Linked DNA regions of Homo sapiens: region 2 is linked to region 1. Evidence: fine-mapped QTL for protein levels in blood plasma. A gene starts in region 1. The other region holds a variant in brackets. All regions are shown on one strand. Distances are from middle to middle. Region 1 holds the start of LGALS3BP (galectin 3 binding protein). Region 2 has its middle 13 kb from the start of LGALS3BP.

Evidence for each region. PIP is the chance, under the fine-mapping model, that this variant and not a neighbour inherited with it causes the effect. The UK Biobank Pharma Proteomics Project read protein levels with antibody pairs (Olink). The fine-mapping took linkage between variants from a reference panel, not from the people measured, so its PIPs are less certain.
Region 2: its variant is fine-mapped to the plasma level of the LGALS3BP protein (UK Biobank, PIP above 0.99).

Annotation. Positions count from the first base shown.
Region 1 is chr17:78,978,143-78,982,521 of GRCh38, forward strand. It overlaps LGALS3BP (galectin 3 binding protein), which reads right to left and starts at 1,781. Exons shown (of 6, transcript NM_005567.4): 1 at 1,682-1,781. RefSeq lists an enhancer at 1,815-2,807.
Region 2 is chr17:78,964,563-78,968,941 of GRCh38, forward strand. No RefSeq gene overlaps it. Among named protein-coding and RNA genes, the nearest start is that of LGALS3BP, 13 kb to the right of the region's middle. The variant C/T (reference allele first, on the strand shown) is at 2,117.

The sequences.
Region 1 (4,379 bases):
CGGCTGGGAGTCTGGGCCTGGTGACCTTGAGGCTGCTTGGAGGGGGCCTGGTGGACGGCTGCAATGGCATCCCCAGAGCTTGTCGGAAATGCAGTCATGGCTGGCCTTGCCCTAGCCCCTCTGCATGGGAGTCTGCATGAACAAGCGCCCTGGGAGCTGGGTGCACTGGCTGGTGAGCAGCTTTGCTCTGGGACTCGTGCTCGCTGGCACTGTGCAGCCACCCCTTGTCGGGGCTCCCCGGGCACCACTGGAGGCCTTACCGTGACCCTGAGAACCACCTTAGTTACACCTCACCTTACAAGTGAATGAGCTGACACCCAGAGAGGCAAATGGGCTCCACATCCACAGTCAGTGAGCCACAGGCAGGGGGTCTGCTCGGGGGAGCCCACCTCTCCTCCCTGTGTCAATGTCAGTAGATGGCTAAAGGGGCCAGGGTGTGACCGCCTGTCCTGTGTGCTGGGGACTGTGCTGGTTTTAGCACTGAAGTTTCCCTGTGTCCTGGGAAACCCCTCAGTCCCAGGCACGCCGGTATGGGTGGACGCCCTCTCCACTTCTGCCCCCAGCCACTTCACTCTGCTGCAGCCACTAGGTTTGTCCGTCCTGGGAGAGTAACTCAGGGCCTTGGAAAAATGGCCAACTGGCCAGGCGCGATGGCTCACGCCTGTAATCCCAGAACTTTGGGAGGCTGGGGCAGGTGGATCACTTGAGGTCAGGAGTTCAAGACCAGCCTGGCCAACATGGTGAAACCCCGGCTCTACTAAAAATACAAAATAATAATAATAATAAGCTGGGCATGGTGGTGTGCACCTGTAGTCCCAGCTACTCAGGAGGCTGAGGCAACAGAATTGCTTGAATCCGGCAGGCAGAGATTGTAGTGAGCCGCTGCACTCCAGCCTGGGTGACAGAGCAAGACTCTGTCTCAAAAAAAAAAGGGGGGGGGGCAACGAAGCACCTGGCAGGTGGCGTCGCTGCCCTTTGTGTGGCAGCGGCTATTTTTGCCTGATTCCTTCATACAGTTGAGACCCGGCTGCCTGTGTTGGCCCCTTCGTGCAAATCAGAAAAAAAGGTGCTCTTCCTTGGAGTGGGTGCAGGCCTAGGCCAAATGCACAGGTCTGAGAGAGGGCCAAGCTGAATTCTAACCCACTTGCCCTTTGGCTGGTATCCTTGTGCAGTGAGTAATCTGCCCAACTGTACACAGAGGCCCTGTGGGCCTGGGAGCAGCAATGATTGTTGCTGGACTCAGGAGCCCTGGATCCCCAGCTCCAGGCCTATGTGCAAACAGGGAGGCATGACCCCCACTTGCCTGTGTAGAGAGAGGGGTGCCCTGGCCGGGCGCGGTGGCTCACACCTGTAATCCCTACACTTTGGGAGGCCGAGGCGGGTGGATCACCAGAGGTCAGGAGTTTGAGACCAGCCTGGCCAAGATGGCGAAACCCTGTCTCTACTAAAAATACAAAAATTAGCTGGGCGTGGTGGCACGCGCCTGTAATCCCAGCTACTTGGGAGGCCGAGGCAGGAGAATCGTTTGAACCCAGGAGGCAGAGGCTGCAGTGAGCGGACATTGCATCACTGTACTCCAGCCTGGGTGACAGAGTGAGACCCTGTCTCAAAAAAAATAAAAATAAAAAAGAGAGAGAGACTGAGAGGGGTGCCCACCTGAGAGCTAGAGGCAGGAGCTTACCTGGCTGCGGTAGCTGCAACGGCCGTGTGGAGCCTCCTCGCTTCCAGCCACAGGATCCCTCTGCAGACTGGTCCTTTGACCCAGAAGCCTCTCCCAGTATGGAGCGTGGTCAGGCTGATCCCAGGAAATGCTTCAGAAAAGAGTCTACTTTCGATTTCCAGAAACCACCTGACATAGATGTCTTCCGGGATTGGCTGCTGCTGATACTCCCCAGGGCCCCTCTCTTTTGTCTCAGCTCTGCCTGTGGCTATCAGTGCCAGGCTGGCAGAGGCCCAAGGTGGGAGTCTGGCTGGAGCAAGGCCTGCAAGAGGACTAACAGCCACACTCAGTTGGAAAGGCCGCCAGGCTGGTCAGGGGCTGGCGTTTGGTGGACGGGAGGGGAAGAAGCAGAGGCTCTGGGCCCAGACAGTCTGCACCTGGTGGTGTGGCTGTGGACTCTGACAGAGCGCTCCGAGTCTTTTCCTGGGTCTAGCACGTTGCTGGCTGGGTGAACACCACACAGGGGGCTGCTTATGTGCAAATCCACCCTCTCTGTGCTCTTGGCATGCTGACCACACAGAGGGCCTGTGCCCCACAAGGTTGCATGGCACTGTCCCCTGTCCCCAGGGGAGGGAGGCACTGAGAACCAGGTATGCAGCTGGCCAGTGGAGGAGCTGGACCCTGCTCCAACACCTGACCCCAGAGCCTGTGCTCGCCACTGCTGGACCTGTGGCCACTCTCCTACTGTCTCCCCCTCAGCGGGGCGGGGGACAGAGCCTCTCTGGGTGACATAATGGCTCTGTCCAGCTCATACCCATTCCCTTTCCTCCCACTGAAAGCCGGCACCTCAACTGTCCCTTGGGGAGCACCCCCTCCCATTCCCGGCTGTGTGGTTCCCAGAGGGCCCCCAGCTCTTGGCCTTCAACCACCCAAGGCCTGGCTGTCTGAGCCCTGCGGGGGCCCCGGGCCACACTGCTGGTTTCAGGGTGGGGCTGTGAGCCCAGCCAGCCGGTGAGAGCCAGCTTCTGACTGAGAGGATGTGGGCCCAGGCTGCTGGGGCCGGTGGGGCAGAGCAGAGGGAAGCAGGCATCCTCCGGCCTGAGCTCCTGGGTCCAGCTGGCCTAATCCATGGTCAAGGCTGGGCTTCACCGCTCAGTGAGGCAATCAGCAGCCGCTCTTGTTTCTGTCACTTGCACCCCATGGTTCTGGATGAGCCTTGGGATGTGCCCAGGCCTCTGACCAGTGGTTCTCAGCCTGGGCTGGACAGAAGAATCATCAGGGAGTTTTACAAACTCCTAATGCCTAGACCCAGGAAGTCACCATCTCTGGGAGTAGGGGACAGGCAGGGGCATTTAAAAGCCCCCAGGCAGTCCCACTGGGTGGAAGGCCCTGGTTCCCTGGCAGCTTAGAGTCCGAGACAGCCAGCCCAGAGGTCAGACATTCAATGACTATTTCCTTCAAGGTGTGAGGTTTTAGGCAGCTGCACGGTTTGCCTAATCCCCTCCAGAGGAACTGTGAAGATCCAGGGGCAGGTGCAGCTGGAAATAGAACTGGCTGTGGGGAGTTTAAAAAAATCTCATCTGGATTAAGGGCCTGAGTGCACAGAAACCCCAGCATCATCCCTTCTCAGCAGTGCTAATGACTTCTGCCCAAGTGGCCAGGGAAGGACAGGAGTGCAGAGGACGGGAGGGCATCTCTGGGAAGTGCTGGGAAAGGTTTTAAAACTCAGGTGCCGAATCTTTAGCCCCAGAGTCCGGGAAAGTCCTAAGCCATCCAGGCAGGTAAAATGGAAAACCCAGAGGCCTCCTCGTGGAATCGGAGCACCAACATCTGCTCCCCTGGGGCTCGCAAGGCCTTTCCGGTGTGCGATGACCATGGGGTGGAGGGAAGCGCTGACAGGGGACAGGCAGGGGAAGGGGCAGCGGCTCGGCTCTGAGAAGACAGCTGGGTGAAAGCCTCAGATTCGTGTGGACAGAACTGCTGTCATCAGGAAGCCGCTCCCAAGACATGGTAGGGAAAGTGCGGGGCATTTCAGAGATGAGAATGGTTAACTGGCCTGTAAGGTCATCTTTTGTGCCTCTACCCCAAACCTCTCCGCAAATTGAGGAACGCTCCCTATAATAGCTAATATGGATTTCGCCAGGCATTACTATAAGCCTTGCCACAAATGAATGCATTTAATACTTCCAGCCATGATGGGAAGCAGCTGCTCTTATATTCCCTGTTACAGATGAGAAAACAGAGGCTCAGTGAGGCGACGTAATCGGCTAAAGTTGTGCAGCTGGTAGGGGAAGAACTGGGGTTTCAAACCCATCCTTTCCTTCTTTTTAAAAATTGGCTTTCTTGGCATATAATTTACGTGCAAAGTTTTGGCAAATGTGTAGCGATGGTATCATGACAACAATCATTACCTAGGGCGTTTCAATCACCCCTAAGAATTCTCTTATGCCCCTCTGCAGCCACCCCTCCCCCCAGCCCCTTCCCAGCAACCACCTCTCAGCTTCTGCCACTGCTGGTTGCCTTTCCTAGAATTCCCTCTATTTTGTCTTCTTTTTTAAGACACAGTCTCCCTCCATTGCCCAGGCTGGAGTGCAGTGGAACAATCTCGGCTCACTGCAATCTCTGCCTCTCAGGTCCAAGTGATTCTCCTGCCTCGGCCTCCCGAGTAGCTGGGATTACAGGTGCGCCCACCACCACGCCCAGCTAATTTTTGTATTTT
Region 2 (4,379 bases), 14 kb before region 1:
CCATCCCCTGTAGACTGGGTTGATAACCTGTGGTATAGTCACGTAACGGGGTTCACTTCAGCTACAAAGAACAACGTGCGTGAATCTCATAGGCATTGTATGGAAGCCAAAAAGCCTGACACGACACTAGGGAGTGGGTACTCAGGTACGATTCCATTTACATGAAGTTCAAGAGCAGGAACAACTACTCTGTGTCGACAGAAATCAGATTTAGTGGTTCCATGGTGGAGGTTCTGACCTAGAGAGCCTTCTGGGGTGAGGGAAAGGTTCGGTATCTCTATCCGAGGGGTGGTGCCAGCAGTGTTTACATGTAACACAACAATTAACCAAGCTCTACGCTTCCCACATGTGTGTGTGTAATATACCAATAAAATGGTTTTTAAAAATCTCACTGGCAGGCAGGGTGCTGTGGCTCACGCCTGTAATCCCAGCACTTTGGGAGGCCCATACGGGAGGATTGCTTGAGCTGAGGCATTTGAGATCAGCCTGGGCAAAGTAGCAAGACCCCATCTCTAGAAAAACTCAAAAATTAGCTGGGCATGGTGGCACATACCTGTGGTCCCAGCTACTCAGGAGGCTGAGGTGGGAGGATCGCTTGAGCCCAGGAGGTCAAGGCGGCAGTGAACTATGATCACGCCATTGCACTCCAGCCTGGGTGACAGAGTGAGACACTGTCTCAAAAAAATAAAAATAAAGAGGAGCTCAGTCTCGGGATAGACAACTGAGAAAAGTTTTGTCCTTTTCTGCTACCTTCTTCTTGCTGCCTGAAAGGCAGAAGTGATGGCTGGAATCTCAGCAGCCATTGTAGATCATGAGGGTAGCCTTGAGGGTGGCAGGCATACAATAATGGTGTACAAATGGAAGAAGTCTACCTCCAGAAAGGGTGCCTTCTCCCTTTTATGTGTCAGAAAATAACAAAAAATGTCATATAGAGTCCCTGCTATGTTGGGCTTTCATGATAGGAAGCTGAAGCTAAAAATATCTAGTACAGGTGCATGCATGAGAGATTCTGGCTTTGTGCGCTAGCTTGAGCAGCTGGGAGCAGTGCTAATTATCTTCTCAATTGCTTGACTGAAAACTGGAGTCACGGATGGCCCGTGAATTCCTCAGTGTGTTGTAGAGAAAAGAATCCAAGGCATCGAGGAGCCAGGTGCCCTGGAGTGTGTGCCGTGTGCAGTCAATTGCTGGCCTTGACTCTGGACAGACCCAGGAAGCTCTCCTCCCCCAAAAGCCCGCCCAGGGAAATGTGCAGGGAAGGAGGAACCAGTCTCCTAGAAAATTCCCTGCGGCTGCTCTGTGTAGGTCAGAGAGGCCCTCTGGAGATGCTGCAATTGAAATGCTTCGTGATGGCCATAAGGTGGAGGTGCACAGGACCAAAACAGGCAGGGAGCTTGCAAAACCCTCACATGATCTGTAGTGTTAGAAAAGCTCAAGATCCGGGATGGGCGCGGTGGCTCATGCCTGTAATCCCAAACACTCTGGGAGGCTGAGGCAGGTGGATCACCTGAGGTCAGGAGTTCAAAACCAGCCTGGTCAACATGGTGAAACACCGTCTCTACTAAAAATACAAAAAATTAGCCGGGCGTGGTGGTGCGTGCTGGTAGTCCCAGCTACTCGGGAAGCTGAGGCAGGAGAGTCGCTTGAATCCAGGAGGTGGAGCTTGCAGTGAGCTGAGATTGTGCCACTGCACTCCAGCCTGGGGGACAGAGTGAGACTCCACCTCAAAAAAAAGAAAGAAAGAAAGAAAGAAAAGCTCCAGATCTGGTGAACAGAGGCACCTTGTGCCATCACGACAGAGTCGTAGCCTCTCACCCATTTCCTGGATCACCCAGAGCCCCTTGGAAGGAAGGGTGGTCAAATCTCTTACAGAAAGGACCCTGTAATAAAATGACAAGGACTTACAGTACCAAGAATCCGCTTCCTGGCCTTCCCCAAAGAGGCTCTTGGCCGTGAACCCGGCGACCGAGCTCCAGGGCAGGGGTTCGGCAGCTGTCCCGAGGACTTGGTGAGTAGCTTCTCGTGAGTTACACCAGATGAAGACGGCGCTGCCACTGTTTCAGATGTGGCTGATTGGAGTAAATGAGCACACCCCGCACGTGGATGCAGCAGTGGCTGA[C/T]GGCAGCTCCCTCCCCCTCTCCCTATCTCGGTCTGTCTCTCCTGCGTCCACACACACACATGCGTGCACACACATGCACACACACGTGTCCTGCCTCAGGAGTACACCGGCTGTCTCGTTCTGCTTCCTGCCAACTCATGATGCTACAGTCATCACACTGGACCAAAGTGAACCCCAGTGGGTGCCCTATGTGTGTACCCCTTGGTGCCTTAGAAACGGGCCCAACCTTGGCTAGATCTCTGTGGACTTTTGAGGGGACACATGCCTTACTTGGGGAGTGGCTCCTGCCTCTTTACTAGAGACCCAAGTCTGGTGTCAGAGCACGAGGCCACTGTCTGCTGGTGCAGCTGCCTTGCCTGTGACCTTAAGATCCGTTAGGCCAGGACGTGGGGCTTGAGATGCAGGAAGCTATGCTGATGGGCGTGAGGGGCCCGCGGCAGGCCCGCTGGGAGGACCACCCAGGAGCATCCAGCGGTTTGGAGCTGAGCAGGGCCCTCTTTGGCAGGGAGATTCACTCCTTCCAGCACAACCAGCTTTGGCCCAAACATTCGAGCATGGGTCATGAGCTGCCCTCCATGAGCTGGAAGGACACAGGTGGACGTGGCCCTCAGGAGCGCGGGCAGTCTCTGGAGACATGGGTGATTTTCATCTGTGCCAAGGCTGCCCCACCCTCCACCCAGGGCACCTGGGGCTTCCCCCAGGGCCTTATGGTGCATTCCCTAATACCGGTGACGGAGGTGACGGAGGTGACGGAGGTGGGAGAAACGCAAGCCTGTTTCAGATTGCACTGCGGGCTAATTCCAGGTGGGAGTGGCCTGTTGCCCAGCAGAAAGGGGACCTCGCTTTGGGCAGAACCCGGAGTGGCCAATCTCAGTTTCCGTGTGGATGGAGGGAAGCCGGCCTTGGCCACGTGACCTGTGGAAGCAGCTCAGGGTTTGATCAGAGATGCCAGGGCTGGAGGGAGGAGGATGGAAGAATGAGTAGCCGTGAGCTTTGGGAAGAGAGCAGGGACCGGCGTCTTGGGATGGCCACAGAGATGAGGATGCTTCTGTCCCCTGACTGTTCCCTGAAAGGCCCCACTGCAGTCCTATGCTGGGGTGCCTACCCCGGGGTGTGGGGACAGGTGTCACAGAGTGTCACTCTGCACCTCTACAGCCTCCAGGGCCTCCTCTGCTGAGAGGTGGCCTGTGGGGAGGGAGGCTTTGCACGGGCTCACCACTGCCATGTCACCAAGGCTGATGGGAGCGGACCTGGCGCTCCTGGGCCTTCGCTCGGCGCCTCGATGCCCATGGGGAGCTCCGGCTTCCTGAAGGCCGTGGCTTGCAGCCGACCCCTTCCATCGGAGGAGGCAGCCGCTTGCTCCCCAGGAATCGACACTTACTCTAGATCTGAATGCCCCCATCCTACACGGCCCTCAGTGCCACCAGCCCTTCACTGACTCAACACCTTTCCCACCCTGTTGGCCACCCACAGACATGCAGGTGACTCAGGAGCTGCAGTCAGGCCGTGGGCTCATGGTCACATGTGTCACCTATCACACATTCAAGGGCTCACGAAACAGGAAGGCTGGGATGAAACCTCAGGCTCAGGAGGCCAGTGAAGGGAAAAATGCAAGAGCCTGGCTCTGCGGACGTGCTGGGCGGCAGATGAGACAGCCCCGGAAGTCCCTGCCTCCAGGTCCCCCAAATCATCCTTTCCTCCCTCCCTGTAGACAAGAAAATGCTGCCCTCCACCTGTGGACGCACCAGCTCAAGGAGCCCATCTGCATTTCTCCTTGTTCAGAATGCACAGCAGTGAGCCATGGGGCCCTGAGCAGGGCGCCCATCACCTAGTGCAAAGGTTCTGCTTCTAGTCCTGAAACCTGGGTTCTGTTTTTTTGTTTGTTTTTTGTTTTGTTTTGTTTTTTTTGAGACAGAGTCTTGCTCTGTCACCAGGCTGGAGTGCAGTGGCATGATTTCGGTTCACTGCAACCTCTACCTCCCGGGTTCAAGCAATTCTCCTGCCTCAGCCTCTTGAGTAGCTGGGATTACAGGTGCGTGTCATCACGCCAGCTAATTTTTGTATCGGGGTGGGGGGGTTTTCACCATGTTGGCCAGGATGGTCTCGATCTCTTGACCTCGTGATCCGTCCTCCTTGGCCTCCCAAAGTGCTGGGATTACAGGTGTGAGCCACCACACCAAGCCGACACAGGGGTTTTGCACCCAAGAGAGGAACGTTTCCACGATGAGACATCTCCACGTTCCTTCAAATTGGCAGTGAAGAT